4 separate regions of the Homo sapiens genome follow, and regions 2, 3 and 4 are each linked to region 1. The links come from fine-mapping of genetic effects on gene expression. A gene starts in region 1. Each other region holds a variant in brackets. All regions are shown on one strand. Distances are between the middles of the regions.

Evidence for each region.
Region 2: its variant is fine-mapped to the expression of NIPAL2 in whole blood (INTERVAL, PIP 0.95).
Region 3: its variant is fine-mapped to the expression of NIPAL2 in whole blood (TOPMed, PIP above 0.99).
Region 4: its variant is fine-mapped to the expression of NIPAL2 in whole blood (TOPMed, PIP above 0.99).

The regions. Positions count from the first base shown.
Region 1 is chr8:98,291,804-98,297,148 of GRCh38, forward strand. NIPAL2 (NIPA like domain containing 2) reads right to left here and starts at 2,432. Exons shown (of 11, transcript NM_001321635.2): 1 at 2,200-2,432. The coding sequence starts at 2,334. All of the region lies in intron 5 of LOC105375659 (a long non-coding RNA gene), which reads left to right. RefSeq lists a silencer at 1,952-2,671.
Region 2 is chr8:98,206,187-98,211,186 of GRCh38, forward strand. All of the region lies in intron 6 of NIPAL2 (NIPA like domain containing 2), which reads right to left. The region is part of intron 2 of NIPAL2-AS1 (NIPAL2 antisense RNA 1); the gene reads left to right. Among named protein-coding and RNA genes, the nearest start is that of NIPAL2-AS1, 32 kb to the left of the region's middle. The variant T/C (reference allele first, on the strand shown) is at 2,127.
Region 3 is chr8:98,244,888-98,249,887 of GRCh38, forward strand. The region is part of intron 3 of NIPAL2 (NIPA like domain containing 2); the gene reads right to left. It overlaps NIPAL2-AS1 (NIPAL2 antisense RNA 1), which reads left to right. Exons shown (of 3, transcript XR_928444.3): 3 at 4,369-4,481. Among named protein-coding and RNA genes, the nearest start is that of NIPAL2, 47 kb to the right of the region's middle. The variant T/C (reference allele first, on the strand shown) is at 2,567.
Region 4 is chr8:98,233,728-98,238,727 of GRCh38, forward strand. NIPAL2 (NIPA like domain containing 2) reads right to left here. Exons shown (of 11, transcript NM_001321635.2): 4 at 2,428-2,487. All of the region lies in intron 2 of NIPAL2-AS1 (NIPAL2 antisense RNA 1), which reads left to right. Among named protein-coding and RNA genes, the nearest start is that of NIPAL2, 58 kb to the right of the region's middle. The variant C/T (reference allele first, on the strand shown) is at 2,260.

The DNA.
Region 1 (5,345 bases):
CACTTCCCTGCTCCTAAGACATCTTCCCCCACTGAACTACTACTTTTGAGTTGCTTTGAGGTTTCTTCCTCCAGAAGCACTCACACCTTTGTCTTAGACAACATTGATTCTAAGTGGCCACTGTTAAACATGTATTACATGAAAGCATTCCAGGGAAGTTTGTCTTTTTCTATGTAGTAAGGTTAATTGATCAGATTTGATGATAATCACTTTGGAAGGGATAAAGGGACAGAGAACTAGGCTATCAGCCAACACACACTGTGCAAATATTTTAGTTGTGATAAAACCAATGGAGGCAAGCAAATAAGCATCATTAAGCTGTGGCTAGTTAGCAACCAACATTCATTTTGATTGTGGGAGTGACACATTTATATCTCACACTTTGTTTTTCTGTATCCACACCCATTTTCAGCCATTTCTATTCAGTGTCAAAAAAGACAAGAAAAATTAGACTCAATTTTATTTTTACTGGCCTGGACAACACCAGAGGCACTCAATAAAATGCTTCTCGAGTAAACTTTTTAAAAATTAATTTTTACTTTTGCTTAACACAAATGCAATTACTGAAAAGATAAAATACCACCATCTTATAAGAGGGCCTAAATTTGCACAATAATGGCAAAACTTGATACAGTTTTATCTCAAACCAGCAAAGTTTAGATGTCAGCTCAGTAATTTCAATTAGCACATTCTGGATACATCCTTTCTAACCTGTACAAATACACACTGTCAAAGGCAAATTAAGCCTTGCAAACAGTATTTATTTGCCTCACATTTATGTCACATGATAATCTGTGTTTGGATATCAGACAGCCAAGACAATCAAGAATTCCAGGAAATGTCAAAGAAAACTAATGACTACAGAGGTTTCCACTGTGAAAACAATGTCCTGTTTTTGGATGATCACATCTGCTAACCCTCTATTTTTTTTTTTTTTTTAATCAAGAGGGGATAGATAACTCATTCTTAAACTTATATTGGGAATACTTCTAATAAAAGAATAATATAATAGATAGATTCAAGTTCCCATAAAAATGATGCTTTTCTTTGTAATTCCTGTGGGTAGAAGAAAGGAGAAATGGGGTTGGATTACAAACATTGATCAAGAGGCTCTGAGTACCCTCATTTTTCCTATTTTTATATCTTTTATGATGAAATGACTTAAAGCAATACTCTCCCCTCTTGAAAACTAATAAAGTGAACATGCTTATTTATCTTACTTATTCTTTATACAAATATATTCTCTTCTGCATTCAGAAATTAATATTTAGAACACTTCAGGCATAAAAGGAATCCAGATCTTTGATAATTGGTTAAACTCTCCGATTTAGGACAACAGCAACAAATATTTTCTGATTATATTGTTGCAAAAATAAAAGTATCCATGGTTTTGTTAAAGAACAAGAACAAAGTAACACATTTAATGAAAACAGGAGGAAGCCTGGAATCCACCGTGATAAAACTTAGTTGCAATATGAACGCTGCTAGAGGAAGGGCTGGCCAGAACACTTCCTCATCTTAAACCAAGCCAAAAATAAATGGGCGGCTCCAAGTCCCTTTGATTTTGTTAAATGTATATTTCCAGTGTAAACTGGCGTTGTTTAAGTTAACAAAGTTTTCCCAAAGGGCCGGTGGGAAAGAATGAGAGTCCTGCAAATGCAACCTGAGAAAATGTGTTCCTCGCACGGAAATGGAAGAGCTGTGTTGAGATACCAGGGACACACGCAGGGCATCTGCGCGAGGTGACATTAGGCTGCCCTTAATGAGTTTTCTGCTTCTGATAACAGGGTGTCACTTTTTTCTTTTCTTTTAACTGTAAAAGGATCCTGGGGTGAAAATGAGTGAATTGCCCCCACACTCCTAGATTCCTTCCGGGAGAAGAGGGCGGACGCAGGCTGGGGAGGCGGGATCGGGACCCGGAGGTCCCAGGAACGGGTGGCTGAGGTCAAGGCCGAAGACCTGGGCGCCCACTCCCAGTGCCGGGTGCCCGGGAGAGGAAGACTGGGCGGACCCCCGCGCTTCCGGATGAGGCGGACTTAGGTCAATGCGGGAAACATTGCATGTCACCTCTTCCCACTCGGAGAGGCCGGGTGTCTTCCTGAGAGCTGGCAGGAAAGCGGCCGAGGCGCAGAGGCGCCCGGAGCCAGCCGCCCTGGCCGCGTCCCCACCGGGCTGCGGTGGCTGCGGGGCGGCCCTTACCTGGTTCCTGCGGTACCAGTCGCCCGAGAGGGAGCCGTTGCCGGCGCCTGGTGCCCCGTACGTGAAATTCAGTGACAGCTCGTCCAGGGCGGCCGAGGCGGAGTCCCCGGGGCCCGCGGGCGCCACCGCTGCCATGAGGTCTCGCTCCCGGCGCTCGGGCTCCGGCTCGGGCTGCGGCCGCCTCCCCGCCCTGTTGCACCGCGAGGAGGCCGCGCCGCAGCCACTTCCTGCTCGGTGCCCGGGCGAGGCGGGCGCGCCGAGGCCACCTGGCTCCCGCCCCCGCGCGGCCGTAGGTGCTCCCAGCCTGGCCGGGCGCTGCCTCCTCTCCTCCTCCGGTGCGAGGTGTCCTCGGGGAGCCCGGCGGTCTGCGGCCTCCCGGGGCCGTCCAGCTCGCACCGCGCCCTCCTTCCGCTGGGCCAGTGTCTGCATCCTCGGGGCCGCACTGCCCAAGGGGGCAATCCCCGCGGCCGTCCGCAACGGGTCCCCGCGCCTGTCGGGGCCAGAATCAGATCATCTCCGTTGTAAACATTTGTCCAAGTCAATGGAAGAGGAGGAGACACTGACTAACCCAAAGCAGCTATCATCTCCCATCTCTACCTGGCAATTCCAGTCCTCTATCACATATGTAGTGTTTCTCACCGATATTTTAAAAATTGATTGCATATGAAAAAGTCATGAGTTCCCAGAAATATTGTAAGCAATATGAGAAAAAAAGATCCGAGCGATTGAATCTCAGTGCCAGTGCTTGATAGATCCTTAGTAAATATTCCTTGAATGAGGAATGTGGTAGCCATAGGACCCCAGTGTGCGATGACTGGATTGGGTTTGCTTCAGATGGGATCAGGTGGAGTTGCTGAAAAGTTGCCAGCTACTGTATATATGAATTTAGGATGAAAGATAAATGTTGTTATTAATCTTAAGAACTCTAACGAGATGTTCTGGTTTTACCTGTATTCAAATTCTAATGTGTGACCACAAATGATCTGTAGGGTATTTCTCACTTTAAAAAAACCATGATTCTATACTGTTGCCTGAAGGCTGATAGTTGCCTTCTTTTGTTTACACAATGCTGAGGTTTTTCTTAGATAATGTGCTTTGACTTCCATGAGTTCATGAAAGAGAGACCTTCAAGAAAAGAGAATTGCTGCCTAGAAGGGAGCAGGGACAGTTTTCAGTGTTTCTTAGGGGAAATGTGCAAATGAGAGAAAAGAGTGAGAAAAAGTCATTTCACATACAGAAAAAACAAGACATGTCGTCTCAGAAATTGTGTAGTTTCTTGCTTAAGCACTCGAGATGTTCAGTGAACAGCTAACAATTGTAGGTAACTATTCCCAATTTTAAGAGGCTGATTTACTTCAAATAAATATCTGAAGGAAAAAGGTCTCTATTTGTTATATTACATTTTATTTTATTTTTTGAGACAGGGTCTTGCTCTGTTGCCCAGGCTGGAGTGCAGTGGTGTGATCTTGACTCACTTTAGCCTCATATTCCTGGGCCCAAGTGATCCTCCCACCTGGGACTACATACAGGTGCATGCCACCATGCCCAGCTAATTTTTTTTTTTTTTAGATAGAGTCTCTCTCTCTTGCCCAGGCTGCAGTGCAGTGGCACAATCTCAGCTCACTGCAACCTCTGCCTCCTGGGTTCAAACAATGCTCCTGCCTCAGCCTCCTGAGTAGCTGGGACTACACGTGCACACCACCAAGCCCGGCTAATTTTTGTATTTTTAGTAGAGACAGGGTTTCACGGTGTTGGTCAGGCTGGCCTCAAGCTCCTAACCTCCAGTGATCCCCCTGTCTTGGCCTCCCAAAGTGCTGGGATTACAGGTGTGAGCCACCACACCTGGCCCTGGCTAATATTTTTCTATTTTTTTGTAGGGACAGGGTCTCGCAATTTTTCCTAGGCTGGTCTAGAACTCCTGGCCTCAAACAGTTGTCCCACCTCGGCCTCCCAAAGTGGTGGGATTACAGGTGTGAGCTGCCATGCCTTGTCTGATAAGTTTTCTATAACATCACATTCATTGATATTGGTGACTTCATTAATGCTTCTTTCTCTTCACATGCTTTAGGGTGCAAGTAACAGAGTATCCAAATAAAAGTGGCTTAAACAATAATTATCTGCTATCTCCAGAGGAATGTGTCTCTATGTGGTTCTATTATGTCGTCACTTCCACCTTTCTGCTCTGCTATCCCTGAGGTACTGGTCTTGTCCATTGAGGGAGGAAAGCCTTTTCCAGAATCCTCCTGGCATCCTTTCACCTCAGATCCCATTGGCTGGGACTGGGTCACATGCCCATGTTCTACCAGCAAGGGAGGCTGGGAAAGTGATTCTTGGGTATTTCCAACCTAGTGAGAGGTAAGCTCTACCAACCAGGATGAGTGGGAATGCCATGGGGTTATGGGGGAGGGGAACCAGTCAACCCTGGTACAACCACTCTAGTATTTTTCTATCAGCCAGATTGTAAGTAGTTGTACAGTTGCTAACAAGCAAAATACTAAATGGATTGTGTTACTTTCTGGTTTAAAATGCCTTGAAGCCTCCCTATTGCCATAATGAAGTCCACACTTTTTTTTTTTTTGAGACAGAGTCTTGCTCTGTCACCCAGGCTGGAGTGCAGTGGCACAATCTCGGCTCACTGCAAGCTCCGCCTCCCGAGTTCACGCCATTCTCCTGCCTCAGCCTCCTGAGTAGCTGGGACTACAGATGCCCGCCACCACGCCCAGCTAATTTTTTGTATTTTTAGTAGAGTCTGGGTTTCATCGTGTTAGCCAGGATGGTCTCGATCTCCTGACCTCATGATCCACCCACCTCAGCCTCCCAAAGTGCTGGGATTACAGGCGTGAGTCACCACGCCCAGACAATTTTTTTTTTTTTTTAATTTTTTGTAGAGATGGGGTCTCATTATGTTTCCCAGGCTGGTCTAGAACTCCTGGCCTCAAACAATTCAGTGAGACTTCTGAATAAAACTAAGTTTAATTCTTTAAAAGCTTGATTTTTTTCCCTTTAGTTGATACTCTGCTATACTCAACTTGTTCCCATTTTATTTCTTAATTTAAAAAAACATTTTCAATTTCTTTACATTTGTTTAAAACCTCTAATTTTGGAGGAAGATGGTACATGATGCAGAGAAGATTTGATGTACAGCC
Region 2 (5,000 bases), 86 kb before region 1:
AAAAAAACTATAAGTCAAAGGCAATGCGAAGGAGAAATACTCCTTTTGTTGCTGTTGATCTACTTGGTCATAATATATCTGAGTTTCCTTCATTTTATTTGAAAAGGTATTTTATGTATGTGTGTGTGTGTATATATATATATGTATGTATGTATGTATGTATTTGAAATATATATATATTTAAAACAGCAAGTGGTGGCCAGCCAAGAAAAGCCTCCCATAATATCGTTTTCCAAAAACTGAAAATATACTTTAACTTGAAGGGTACTAGGGCACACTTCCAAATTAGGCATTTTCTTTTAGTTAAAAATCATAATTGGCCGGGCGCGGTGGCTCACACCTGTAATCCCAGCACTTTGGGAGGCCAAGGCGGGCGGATCATGAGGTCAGGAGATCGAGACCATCCCCTGGCTAGCACAGTGAAACCCTGTCTCTACTAAAAATACAAAAAATTAGCTGGGCATGGTGGTGGATGCCTGTATTCCCAGCTACTCGGGAGGCTGAGGCAGGAGAATGGCGTGAACCCAGGAGGCGGAGTTCGCAGAGGGCCACTGCACTCCAGCCTGGGTGACAGACCGAGACTCTGTCTCAAAAAAAAAAAAAAAAGGAAAAAAAAATCATAATTGACAGAGGAGATCAGGTGATAAATTCTAAAAACAAACCCCACTTCTCAACAAAGAGGCCCTTACAATCAGGCCTTTCTCCATCTTAAGATGTCTTTTGACCTGATTCTTTTACATATTTCCTACTGATTATGCTAGTAGCCACATCTTAGCTAAACTAGGCATTTTAAATATCTATAGAGATCTGTGTGTCACTTGATGGTTTAAGTTTGTAGGTTAGCTCTTGAGGGACCTTGATTTCCTTCTAAACACTGCCTGAAATTAGAACACAGTGTGATTATGATCTTGTGGTCTGAACAGCCAGGTTTCCCAACGGGACAATTAATGGAGAAGGAGTTGAACGTACTGTTCCATTAGCCTCAGAACCTCAGAATTGCAAAGGACCTTAAAGGTCATCTGATTTAACCACTATCTGATTTTATATTATACTTAAACACAAGACAAAGACAAAACTAGAATTCTCTGTTATTGATAGCTAAACAAACTATCAATTTCTGTAGCCAATCGTTACATTTTCAAAGCATGCACAATTGTCAACTGATTAATCACTATTTTAACCTGTAAATTATTTCTAGGCTGGTGTTGAGTACTTCTAAGTATTTTTGGGGGGTGGTTGATGAGGATAGGTGGAAATACATAATTGTAATGCAGTGTTCTTCTAACATTATACTTAAAAATAGAAGGTACTTAGGTAAGCACAGAAAAAAAGATGAGAATAAACTACATCAAGATATTGTCAGTGGTTATCTCTAGCACTGGGATAATGAATTAACTTGAAATTCATTAAAAAAATCTACAAAAGTAAACATATTCATTTAAAAATTTTTGGAAAATGTGGGAAAGCCTGGAAAGGAAAATTAAAATTGCCTGTAGTTTCAGCACTCACCTCAAATCATTTTTGACATTTGGACATGTTGTTATTTTCCTATCTATAAGTATGAATAGGTTACAACATGTGAATCATAAGGTATATGCTACTTAGGAGCTCATTTTCCAAGTATATACCACTTAGGAACCTATTTACCTAAAGTATTTTCTATTTCATTAAGTATTCTTCTAAACCATGAATTTGTATGAATTTATTTTGGCAATTCCCTATTTTTGGATATTTAGGTTGTATCCATTTTTTTTTTAACTATTAAAAGCGGGGCTGTGATGAATATTCTTGAACGTAAGTCTTTGTTTATCACTCTGCCTATTTCCTTAGGAAAACCACCAAAGGGGAATTCCTGACTACAGCCACTGTGAAGGCTTGTGAAATATACTAGCAAACTGCCTTCCAGAGAGTACCAGTCACACTCTGTTGTACAGTGCTCAATTGCACAGATTTTTGTATTTTTCTTTGTATCTTTCTCTATTTTCGTAATTGTCAATAATTACCATGTATACTTTCATCATTAGAACAACACCATTTTTTCTAAACATGTGCTGACCTGTTTTTGAAATTTGGCCCTCTCAATTCCCTCTTAGATTTTCATCAATATACCTCCTTTCAAAAATTTT[T/C]CTAGGTTGCCATCAACATTTCCTTATGAGAGCCATAAACATTTTATTTACTAATTTGTCTCTGATAACCAAAGCATTCCATGGATAGAGAAGGACTTCCTGGCCTTCCTGGTTTCCTGATCAACCCAGAGGCGTTAGAGTACTTTTTTTTTTGATGTGGAGTTTTGCTCTTGTGGCCCAGGCTGGAGTGCAATGGTGCGATCTTGGCTCACTGCAATCTCCACCTCGTGGGTTCAAATAATTGTCCTGCCTCAGCCTCCTGAGTAGCTGAGATTACAGGCACCCACAACCACACCTGGCTAATTTTTGTATTTTTAGTAGAGCTGGGGTTTCACCATGTTGGCCAGGCTGGTCTCAAACTCCTGACCTTAGGTGATCCACCTGCCATGGCCTCCCAAAGTGCTGGGATTACAGGTGTGAGCCATCACACCAGGCCTGGAGTCCTTTAAGAATGATCACCACTACTGGCAAAGTGGGCCACTCGCCAGAAGCCAGGTTTCTTTCTTCTGACTACCCTCACTTGCTATTTTCTTTTTTTTAATTCCATTTTTTATCAATCACACAAGCAATATCATGTACTTTGTTACGTCTCATGGATACAACATGACTTTCATAATTACTTTTTTAAAACGTACTAATGCTCATTTACAATATTCAAGATGAGCACACAGTGCAGAGTGAGCATCTTGGTTCTCATTTCTTGCTGTAATGAGAACGCTTCTGGTATTTCACCAACAAGTTCTTTATCAGGAGTGCATATGAAACTTGATGAACTATATTAATGAATTTCTTAAAGAATCCTTCTTTCATTCCCATAGTTAATTAAATTCAAATGTTTACTGTGTGATTACTGTGCTCAATTCTACTTAAAGAATATATACTGTAAATAATAGACATGCTCTAATCTGGCCAGGAAGAGGGGCTCATAACAGCATATAAACATATAAGTAGAATATGTAAGTGCAAATTGTTGTAAGTGTTACAGAGAAGAACCAGTTTTATTAAGACCACTTGGGCCAGGTGTGGTGGCCCATGCCTGTAATCCTAGCACTTTGGGAAGGTGAGGCAGGAGGATTGCTTGAGCCTAGGAGTTTGCAACCAGCCCGGGCAGCATGGGGATACCCTGTCTCTCCAAAAAAAAAAAAAAAAAAAAAAATTAGCCAGGCATGATGCCACGCATCTGTAGTCCCAGCTACTCAGGAGGCTGAGGTAGGAGGATCACTTGAGGCTGGGAGTTTGAAGCCGCAGTGAGCTATGATTGTGCCACTATACTCCAGACTGGGTGACAGAGCAAGGCTCTGTCTCAAAACAAAACAAAGACCATTTTGTCACTGAGTATGATTTGCTCTGTTTTATTTGCTAATTTTTTTTTTTTGGATTTTTGTATCAATATTTAGCAGTGATATTAGTTCATAGTGTTTTTTGTTTGTCCTATTTTGTTTCCCATTTTGGGAGGTGAGTCTCATCTGATTATGTTTTCTAAAAAGTAAAAGCTTTCTTCTTATGTCCTCAAATAGTTGCAACAGCATCAGAATAATCTATTCCTTAAGGATTTGAAGATATTACCTTTGGAACTCTCTAGGCCTGGTTCTTTTTTAGGATATAGCTTTTTAACAACTCCTTTATTTCCTCCATAGTTATTTTCATTAAAAAATAAGCAATTCATTCAAATTTATATATATGCATATCTATCTATCATTTCTATTTTGGGGTATTTGTGGTTTTTCTTTTTTTCTGATGGAGGATCTATTTTATTAGTTGTCTTTTAAGAACATGTTGTGTTTAGTTATAAATCCATTACTTTTCTCTTTTCTATTTCATTAATTTTTGCCTTTTTAATTAATTTTAATTAATTCTTTCTGCTTTCCTTAGCTTTATTTCAGTATTTTTTCTAATTTCTTGAGTTGAATGCTTAATTGACTTACATTTAAAGCAATCAATCTCTCTGAATACAGCATTAGTCATGAACTCTAGGTTTAATATTAAGTGCTTTAATAATAATTTAAAAATATGCTGCAATTAAATCTTGGTTTGTACTTTGCACAGCTGCAGTTTAAGGGTAGTGTTAACATTTCCAGGTGGTAGGGTTTTACTGGTTTCTATTTTTGTTATTATTTTTCTGTTTTTATTTCACTGTGATCTGAGGATGTGGTCTGTATTCTTTCAACTTCCTGGAATTTATCAAGGATTTCTTTATGGCCAATTATAGGATCAACTTTTGTAAACGTTACACAGGCACTTGAAAGAAAGTTTATTCTCTGTTTTCAGGATTTAGAGTTCAATATTAGAGGTACCAGTTCATGATTAATTATTCAGATCCTCTGTCTTTATATGGGTTTCTGTCTAATTATCTTCCATGAGCTGAGAGAAGTCTCCTAACCCCCTTATATTTCTGTTAGTGTAGTTTTGCATTTTCTGCAGATTTTCTGTTGCATATTGGATATGATATTTTGTGGATTGTGCTCTTTTTGTCAGGATAAATTACCCCTTTTATCTCACTTAATATCTTCTGCCTTAATTTTCATTTAGTAATATCATGACCTCCTGCTTTGTTTTACTTTCAAGCTGATTTACCTTGTTTTAGATGAAAATTTATGCATGTAGCCAAAACACTTCGCAACCTGCAAGGGCCAATCAGAAAGGGTGCTGGCTGTGGCACTGCTGGAAGAGGGTCCTGGAGAACCCCTGTCTTAGTATTTATCATGACGGGGCTGGGGTTGAGAGGAGCAGATATTAGGGGAAGGAAGCATGGTGGCTGCTATTTGAATAATCCTTACAGCTGTACTAGTGCAAATTGGCTGAATCCAATTTCAGAATCATTTTCAAAATCAATCTGGAAGTTTCCCTGATGTCCAATTTGAGAATATTTCTTTT
Region 3 (5,000 bases), 47 kb before region 1:
CTAATCTAGCCTACAAATAAAAATTTCATCCATTTTCATTTCCTGGACATTCAATTTATTACGTCATCTCTGTGATATAAAGAGAAACCAGGATGTATATTTATAATATAGGAAAATAGAAGATAAAACACTAAGGAAAACTCTCTCTTATAAAAAGAAAATAACCCATGACATGAAAAGAACATATTTACATAATAATGCTACAAACAGAACCTCACATGTAAATATCTGGCTTGTGGTTTCTGACCACTTATAATGGCAACTTTATTGTACTGCTAAAAAGCAAACCACAAAAACACTTTCATGTCAGTCACAATCAAGCTCCAAACACGTGGACACATCGAGCGTGCTCACAGGCAGAGTCAACTCTAACCATATTGAGGTACTACTACATAATTATCATTCCCCGTTAGTTGTAGAACTTTAGGAAAAGAGGTATGTCAATTACAATGTATTCCATGGAATTAAGATTTGAATATCTGAGGATATGTCAGTTTGAAAAATGTCATCTTACAGCGGGAAAAGTTCTACCATTCATGTTGGCAGGAAGAAAAGTGTCAAGTAATTCATGTTGATTAAAAAAATTGCTATTGTCATTTACTGAAGATAATGAAGGAACTGTCGTTCAGAGACAATTTGCATAATTTCAAACGAGGGAACTTACCTGGATTAAGAACAATAATCCTTTCTTTTCTACATTTTTCTTGGCATGCGTTAATGTTAAAGTTGAAAAGACTCCAAAAAAGTAAAAATACTACCACTGACTAGATTAATTCTGTATTACAAATTTAATTGTGTGTTACTTCATCATTAGCAGCCTCTCTAGAAATACTCTTGTGGCATGCTGAAAAAATAAGGATGAGTGGAAAAGATGTTTCAAATAAAGTGTTTAGGCTTCAGGAATGCTTTCTGCTGAGCGTATATGAGCAGACATAGATTAAAACTTCAGAGTTTTATTTCACACATTTTATGTAGGCTGGTTTTTGGACAAACACGCAAAAGCAGATAACTCATCAAGCCACTAAGAAAAGTGATATTTTCTGCATATCTTGAACATTAAAATCAATGTCCGTGTGAAGTGACACTATCACAGGCATCCTGTGAGGTTTTAGAGTTCCGGTGACCTCATCCAGGCTGGCAGTAAGCACACTGCTCTAAGGGACAAAGAGAATTCGCAGCATCTAGGTTTGTGTAACGCTATGGGTCACTTGCTCATTGGTCTGTTTATGTTTCCTTTCATTTGTTTCTAATAAAAATCTTGGAGACCAAAGTTTCTCCTTGACATGATTTCTTTGGAATTCCAAAAGGCCTCACCAGGGCTTCCTGGCTCTGCTATGACCGTCGTCTAATGGATTACAGATACATTTCAGTTTAGGGCTTCATAACAGCACCACAGAAATACACAAAACAACATGTATTCCACATCATGAATTTTGATTTGAGCAAAAACCAGCATATTGGGGAAAATTAGAGATGGAAAAGACTTATCAGACTCATGCTCTCCTCATTTTCTCAGTGCAGTTAGCTCTCCAACCTTAATACAAATTAGCTCAGTAACAGTGCGACTACTTCTCTTAGGAACTTACTCTAGGGCCATGGAGATCTTGCTGCTATTATCTTTCCATACAAAATTTCAAGTGCTTAATTTAATATAATTTATCCCAAAGTCAATCTATTTATTACTCATTTCCATTCAGCTGGGCAATGATTGAGGTAATGAGTTTATGTGTCTCATACCTGGCATAGTGGATGCTCATTCAATATTAGTTTCTTACCTTTATTACTTTGTCTAAAGTATTGCCCGAATTTAACTTGGAAAAAGCTGATATGTTCTTGCACTCTTTTCTAGTTACTTTTAATCAATATACTCAGAGGCATAGAACTGAAAAATGTCACCGGTGCTTCCATCACATTCTATTTCTCCCTCCCTCCCTCCTTGCCCCTGCAATGATCTCCCTCCATATCCCACTTCCTTGCCGCCCCATAGACAAGTTAATTTTATACTGAGAGAAGTCTGCCATGAAGCTATTTAATTCCATGTGGCTTCAATTCTTTGGATTGTTGATAACTTCATTGTTTTTAATCATCTCTAAATGTTTAGGCATAGCATAGATCACAGTCATGGGGATAAACAGAAAAAGGAAAACATTAAATGTAAGCCCACGCTTTGGAGATGCACAAATAACTGAACTCAATCCCCAAAGGACAGGCTTATAGACCTATGAGTGTTCACAAGCATGAATATTCATGAGTCTCTTGCAATGAACTGTTTAACCACCGTGCTTCATTAGGAATTGAAATCTTTTAAGCAAGTATTTATCTCTTCCAACACCCTAGAACGGAACATCCTATCCTTGTTTTGTCAAAATTCAAATTTGAACCAATTCTGCAGGCTGCATTTTGTGATTTCCCCGTGCTGTGCTCTCCCAGGAAGGGCAAATGTCAAGCAACGAGACACACAGTCAGTCACCAGTCCCCTGGGTCTCAGTTAAATGGTGAGGAAGGACATGAAACAGGTCATTGTGCGCATGCTGAGAGGTGCCAAAGGGGAAGTGTAGGGCAGGGT[T/C]GCTGTGTGTGGTTGGGCGGGCTGTGTAAGTTTTGCAATGCAGAGAGTCTCCACATCTGAGGTGGCACCACCCGCATCTCACACCTTGTTGATTTGTGTATTTCTCAGCACAATTCTCTGACAGATGGTCCCAGATTGTCCTGCTCTAACAAAATTAATGTATTACAATCATTTGCAGACAGACAGAAATAAAGTATTTTGAGAAAGGGCTCCCTTTTTCTAATTCACAAAACGGCACCACACAGATGAGAGGAGGGCCTGCGTAGGGTGTGAAGAGAGCAGAGAGTAAGTCTGTTTAATTACCTTAGTCTGAAAGCCAGGGAAGGCCTCTTGAGCAAGGGTTTACCTGAGACAAGAAGGATTAGCAGCAGTTTGAAATTTTATTACAAACTCCACAGAATATCTAACCTATTTCTTTGTACTGGATTTCTGGTATATTAATAGTTTCCCAGAAAACGTATCCTCAAATCACAGTTGATCTGAAAGGAATCTGCCATTCGGCCTCTCTGTAGTTAATGAACAAGAGAACACAAGTGCTTTGAAGCCAGAGCAAGAAGATGGAAAACCGTATATACATCTAGCTTGCTAAGCATTTCCTCTGACAAACTCCTGTATTGGTTTTTAAAATGTATTTCGTGTTGGTAGGTTATTTGGAAATTCTTCTATTTTCCACCGTGTTTTGGTAGGGAATATGTGAAGGAGTTGAAGGGTAATTGCTACTTAATTAGATGAAAAATGAGCTGTGAGGATCCTACTTTATTGCTCTCTGTAAATTTAGCCACTGCATAGATGAGAACAATAAAAAGCCTTTCTTGAATTGGTTTCTCCATTTTAGAGAATTTAACCATCAGCCATCTTTGGAGGCATGGAAGTATGCTCCATTATAAAGAATAAGGTATTTTATTTATCTACACGATAATAATTACAAATCATAGTGACAATAGCCAGTGTTGTCATTATGTCAAATACTATCTAACCAATACCAACACTGTCCTTAGATGTTTGAGTTTACTCAGTTCTTCTGCACAATGACCTCTCATATGGGAACTACTTTCATTCCCACTTTACAGGCTAGGGATCTGAGGCATAAATTGGTTTTAATAATTTGCCTAAGGTCACAGAGCTTGCCAATGGCAGAACTGATATTTGAACCCTGGCGGTGTGGCCCTAGAGCTCTTGACCTTTCTGCTGCCCTGGTTTATTTGGACGAGTATTGAACCTAGCCTCTAGGTGAAATTGAAAATCATTAATTAAGCTTTGTGAATTAATGGAAACACTAATCCACATCTAGAATTAACCACACTGCTAGTAAAACTAGCATTTTAGTCAGAATAGATTTTGGACGTATTATTCATTGAGAAAGACTTCCAGTGAGAAAAATAAAGTAAAATTAAAAGATGACACAAGGATACAAAGGTTCTGACTCTCTCAAAAAGCTGGACCCAGGCCTGGGCATCCCTGTGCACTGAGATCTTTCCCCATTGTGCCGTCTTCACAGTGAAGCATAGACGGGTTATTTAGGCTGAGTCTCTAGCACAATGTGACTGCCTGTGAGCTTTGCCTTAAGAATTCCCTAAAGGGTTTTCTGCAGAACTGCTGTCCCTTGAGATACAATCAAGGGAATCTCAGATGTGTTCAGTATGTTTTGGAGACCTGGCGTACTGCATCTGCCCCTCAAAGATTCATAGTGTGCATAGGCCTGTTTTAGGGCCCCAAGAAGCTCTACACTAATGAAACCTGTGTCGCCTTTAAAACCCCAAATTGCAGAATCCTGTTTGATTATGGAATTCTTTGTTTCTTAGAACACCTATGAATCTACCTGTAAAACTAATGTTGGACAAATGCTGCCTGAAGCTGAGCACGTCAGTGAGGAACAGCAGGACACACAGAGAGAGGGAAAGAAAGCACAGAAGAAAGATGCTTCAAGAAAGGAAAACATGGGTAGAGGGCAAGTTGAAATGCCTATATTGCTAACTGTGGTGCTTCTTACAAATGAGTCCTATATATGACTAGTATATGTCAGACATATGTCATATATGACATACATGTCATATATGTCATACGTATATACATGTCAATCATATGACATGTATACTTTAATTGAACACATATTCAATTAATATATTATCTATTAATATGTAACTATATTTAATATATATTAAATGTATAACATAATACAATTTAATATAATTATATTAAATATAATTAATATATTAAATATATATTAAAGATAATCAATATAATTATATTAAATATATTAAACATAATCAATAAAATTATATTTACATTATTTAATACAAATATATTAAATATCATATATTTAATATAATTATATATAATATATAATCGAATATATTACACTCAAAGTATACAAATATATATTATACTCAAAGTACACAAAAGGAGCAGAAATTTTGATTATGTGAGACAAAAT
Region 4 (5,000 bases), 58 kb before region 1:
ATTGATATTTTTATTTCTTCCTTTCCATAGTTACAACTTGCATTTATTTTTTCCTAAGCCTTACAGGCAGGAGTTAAGGTGCAGTATGAAATAGAAACTTACTTTACCTTTTTGTATCTTTGTTAACATTTCTCATGTTATTCCCTCTGTATGTCCTCCTCCAAATTATTGGATGTAGCCTATGCCTGTCCTGCCCAGCTGTCAGAACCAATTCAAATGTTATCTCTGCTGTAAAAAATTCTCTCTGATCTTCTCAGCTAGAGAAGAACAGGGCTAAACCTGAGTAATTTTGTCCCCTAGGAGACATTTTGGAATGTTTGGAGACATTTTTGGTTGTCATAACTGAGTGGGAGGATGTTAGAGGGATCTAGTGGGTAAAGGTCAGGAGGGATCTTAATGATCCTACAGTGCACAGGGCAGCCCCTACAATGAAGAATGATCTGGCCCCAAATGTCAGCAATGCTGATTCAGAAACACTTCTAAACTAAAGACTCATGACATTATGGCACATATTCTTTTCTACTTAAAAAAAAACCTATTTATGAATCTATATTATCATGGACTATAAATTACTTGTGGACGGGGATTCTGTCTTAATTATCATTTATCACTAATATTCAAGATTAGTCAGCAAATCCCCCTTTATATCTGCATTCTCTCATTAAATACCTTAGATTAATTTGATCATTATTCAATCATTAACTATAAAAGGTGACAGATATTAGATAAAAGGATTTAAAGTTCCCTTAAGCCACTTGATAAATGAGAAAAATAATATATCTAGGACCTAATTTTTAGTTTATAAAACTCAGGTATTGGTCATTTTTTTTTCTTTTTGAGATAGAGTCTCACTCCGGTTGCCCAGGCTGGAGTGCAGTGGTGCAATCTTGGTTCACTGCAGCCTCGTCCTCCCAGGCTCAGGTGATCCTCCTGCCTCAGCCTCCCAAGTAGCTGGGACTACAAGTGCATGACACCACACCTGTCTATTTTTTTTTTTTTTTTTCAGTAGAGACGGGGTTTTGCCATGTTGCCCAAGCTGATCTCGAACTCCTGGACTCAAGCAATCCGTCTGCCTCGGCCTCCCAAAGTGCTGGGATTATAGGCATCAGCCACTGCATCAGGCATTGGCCATTCTTATTTCTGAGTCCATACAACTTCCCCAAATGATTCTACAAACCACAATATATAAAAAAGGGTATAGAAAAATAATATGTTGGAAGAGATAGAATCCACATATGAATGCATTTAGAAAAACATTTAACCATGAAAAATTTGACAATGTTGACTAAAAACTCTGCTAGCAGAATCAAACCAAGGAGGAAAAGAAAAAGAGAAAACATTTTCAAGACATTACGCTCAAGGGAAACATGATCAGGGAAAACAAATGCTCAACATACCAACACTGGTGTCACATTTAGAGCTCAAAATTTAAAAAAAATATGATCTCCCTGGAAGAGGGTAGGCATTGTTTTATTTAAAGTGCCTAAAGTATTTGTATTCATTATCATATGTCAGCAGCAATTCAAACAGGATTTTGTCACGGAAGAAAATATGAATCTCTATAATTCTTCTCACCAATGATATGTCCAACAATAGCTGGAAAATTCAACACATAAGTGATGGCTTTGCCATACATCAGAAATGTTTCTTACAGCCAGGAAGGCTACTGTCATTTTCCATTAATAACTGTATTTCCAAATAAAATATTTAAGAACAATGGTCTGTGCTACTTTTGGGAAAAGCCAAATATAAATTTTAGTTAGTTGATGCATCAAATTTTTTGTGGTTTTCATTTTTATGCAATACTTTCGTGTAACAATATAACAAATATATCCTTTGGAGTGTAATAGTCTATTAGGTAACACAAATGTTTTCATTGAATTTTATGGTGTTCATAAAATTTTATAACATTAATATTATTATAATAACCCATTATAAAATATACAAATGCTCAACATACCAACACTAGTGTCACATTTAGAGCTCAAATTTTAAAAAAAATATGATCTCCCTGGAAGAAGGGAGGCATTGTTTTATTTAAAGTGCCTAAAGTATTTGTATTTTAATGGGTTATTATAATAATAAAATGTTATGAAATTATAATTCAGTGCATTATAATAATATAATCCCTTCAACTGATTAATATTATAATCATAAATTATTTTATAATAATTCATTATAATTATTAATTAATAATTTGCTATAGCAAAAATTGATCACATTTAGCAGTAGTCACAATAGAAATGGAAGTATTTTATG[C/T]GAGAAGAGATGGCAGCTCCAAGACAGAATAATGCCTGACTCTAAATGAGACTTACACCCATTTCAGTAATTTGTTTCCAGTTTTTATCGCACATATTTTTTATGGATTGTATTATTTATTTCCTGATCAAGCAATGCTACAATTACATGAATTAAATAATTACTTACCGAGTAAGTCTGAGGCTCTCAAATTGTCTTTCAGAAATGTAACAGAAATAATGGCACTACCTATAAAGAAAATGGCCATTAGTGGTAGTTCCAATATAAAAGTGTCTATTACGCAATGCCATTTGAAAGAAGTTAAGCAATTTGTGCCTTATGCCTGATGAGCTATGTCCTGATCAGAGACATTCAGCAGTTGTGGCTATAAAAAGGCCTTTCTTCCCCCTGTGGCTGAGGATATGTGGAAATTGGTGTGGTTTACAATGGATGTGGCTGAGACAGTGTCTTGTATATAGTGAAGGCTTAATAAAAGTTTGCTAAAAGACAGAACAAATGAAAGAAAGAAGAAAGGCAGAAAGAGCAGGAAGGGGCAGAAAGAGCAGGAAGGATTAGAAAGACAGGAAGAGATAGGAAGGAAAGAAAGAAGGATGGGGCAGGGTGCAGTGGATCATGCCTGTAAGCCTCAGCACTTTGGGAGGAGTTTGAGTCCAGGAGTTCAAGATAAGCCTGGGCAACATAGTGAAACACCCCATCTCTACTTAAAATACAAAAAATTAGTGGGGCATGGTGGCGTGGGCCTGTAGTCCCAGCTACTGGGGAGGCTGAGGTGGGTGGATTTCTTGAGCCTGGGAGGTTGAGGCTGCAGTGAGCCATGATGGCACCACTGCACTGAAGCCTCAGTGACAGAAGGAGATCCTGTCTCAAAAAAAAAAAAAAAAAAAAAAAAGGACAGGAAGAACTTTAAATATGTGCTAAACTGAAACTCATGATTTCCCAGCATCTCCTCCTATAATTCCTGTTCCGACAATTCCTGTATCTACTTAACACCAGAATCCCAGGACTGCTCCTATTTCTCTTCTATTTGACGATCCACATCCAACAGGTCACTGGGTCTAAATCTATAGTCCACTCTATTTTTTTCTTTTTTTTGAGACAGGGTTTTGCGCTGTTGCCCAGGCTGGAGTGCAGTGGCAAGATCATAACTCACTGCAACATTGGACTCCTAGGCTCAAGTGATCCTCTCGAGTAGCTGGGACCACAGGCTCATGCCACCACTCCCAGCTAATTAAAAATTTTTTTATTTTTAGAAATGGGGTCTCACTATGTTGCCCAGGCTGGTGTCAAACTCCTGGGCTCAAGTGATCCTCCTGCCTCGACCTCCCAAAGTATTGGGATTACAGGCGTAATCCACCGCAACCAGCCTTATTTCACTCTTTGTTAGGTCTGTTCCCAACTCTTCATTCCTGTGATCACCAGCCCTATCCCAAGCTCAGGGCAGCTTCTCTGGCTTAGACCTTTAGCTTCCCTCTGACCTCCCATTTCCCCCTTTTCCCCTTTCCCCATACCACCACCAGAGTAATCGCTCTAAAATGCAAATCTAATGTAAATCCACTGCTTTCAAACCCCTAAGTGGCTGGTCTACAGGACAAAGGCCACACTACCAAGCAGAACACTCAAAGAGCTATGATTTTGCTTCTGATGCTTTGGTCACCACATTTGTCTTTATTTGATAATCTGTAGCCCACCTTTACTGAAGTAATTATAATTCCCAGAATCCACCATGCAGTTTCATGCTTAATGGCTTTTACATGTCCAGCTCTGCCCTGTCCTTGTGACCAGCTCTAGACTCAAGTGTCACCTCTGGATTCCCCTGGGCTGAGCTGATCCCGCCACCCTTATGCTCTGATTACCCCTGTGTATAGCTTTTTCACTACACCTAAGATTTATTTGCCTGTCTTCCCCGAAAGACCATCAGTTCCTTTTAATCTGAGATATGTCTTTTTATTCTTCTAAGATCTCCAGTGAGTAGCTGTATCTAGCACATAAAAGGTGTTCAATAAATGCTCATTGAATGAAATGAAAGAGTATGGGATCTCAGCCTTGCAGTTGTTCTCTTTCCCATTAGTGACACTACTGGACTCTCTCCCTCACAGTCGAGCCATCGTCTGCTACTGTCGCCTCAGGTACCAGGGTTAAACTGAACCTCTCTGAGTTGTCCCTGTTATGGGGTCATTTATGAGTATAGGCATGGGAAAATCCAAAATTGCAATAATACAAAAAGATATGCAACATAATATATGCTGTAAATTTTTAACAAAAACTATTTGCTGGTTGTTTTTTAAAAGTAAAAGTACAGGAAAGAAAAGTTATCATAAAATAATATCATCCTGTAAAGAAAATTGCAGTTAATATATTGGTGTTTTTATTTCCCTTCAGTTGAGATCAAACTTTAATATCAAATTTCCTTTCTCAGTTTCCTCAGTTAACACATTACAATTTGCCATGTCATCAAGAATTCTTCATAGACATAATTTTAATGTTGGTATAATAATCCATTAAACAGATGCTGTGGTTAAATTTGAATGTGACTATATCTGATGTTCCGGCAATTTATTGAAAACAAAATAAGTCCACACCAGAAACCCTCATGCAGGATAAGATGAGATGCTATTTGTTTCCTTTTTTTTTTTTTCCTCAACTTAGCTTTTTCTCATTCTGGTTGATCTTTGTCCTTCAAAACTTTTCCCGGGCAGGTTACTTACAGGAATGGAAGTTTCACACAGGGTAAACCAGGCATG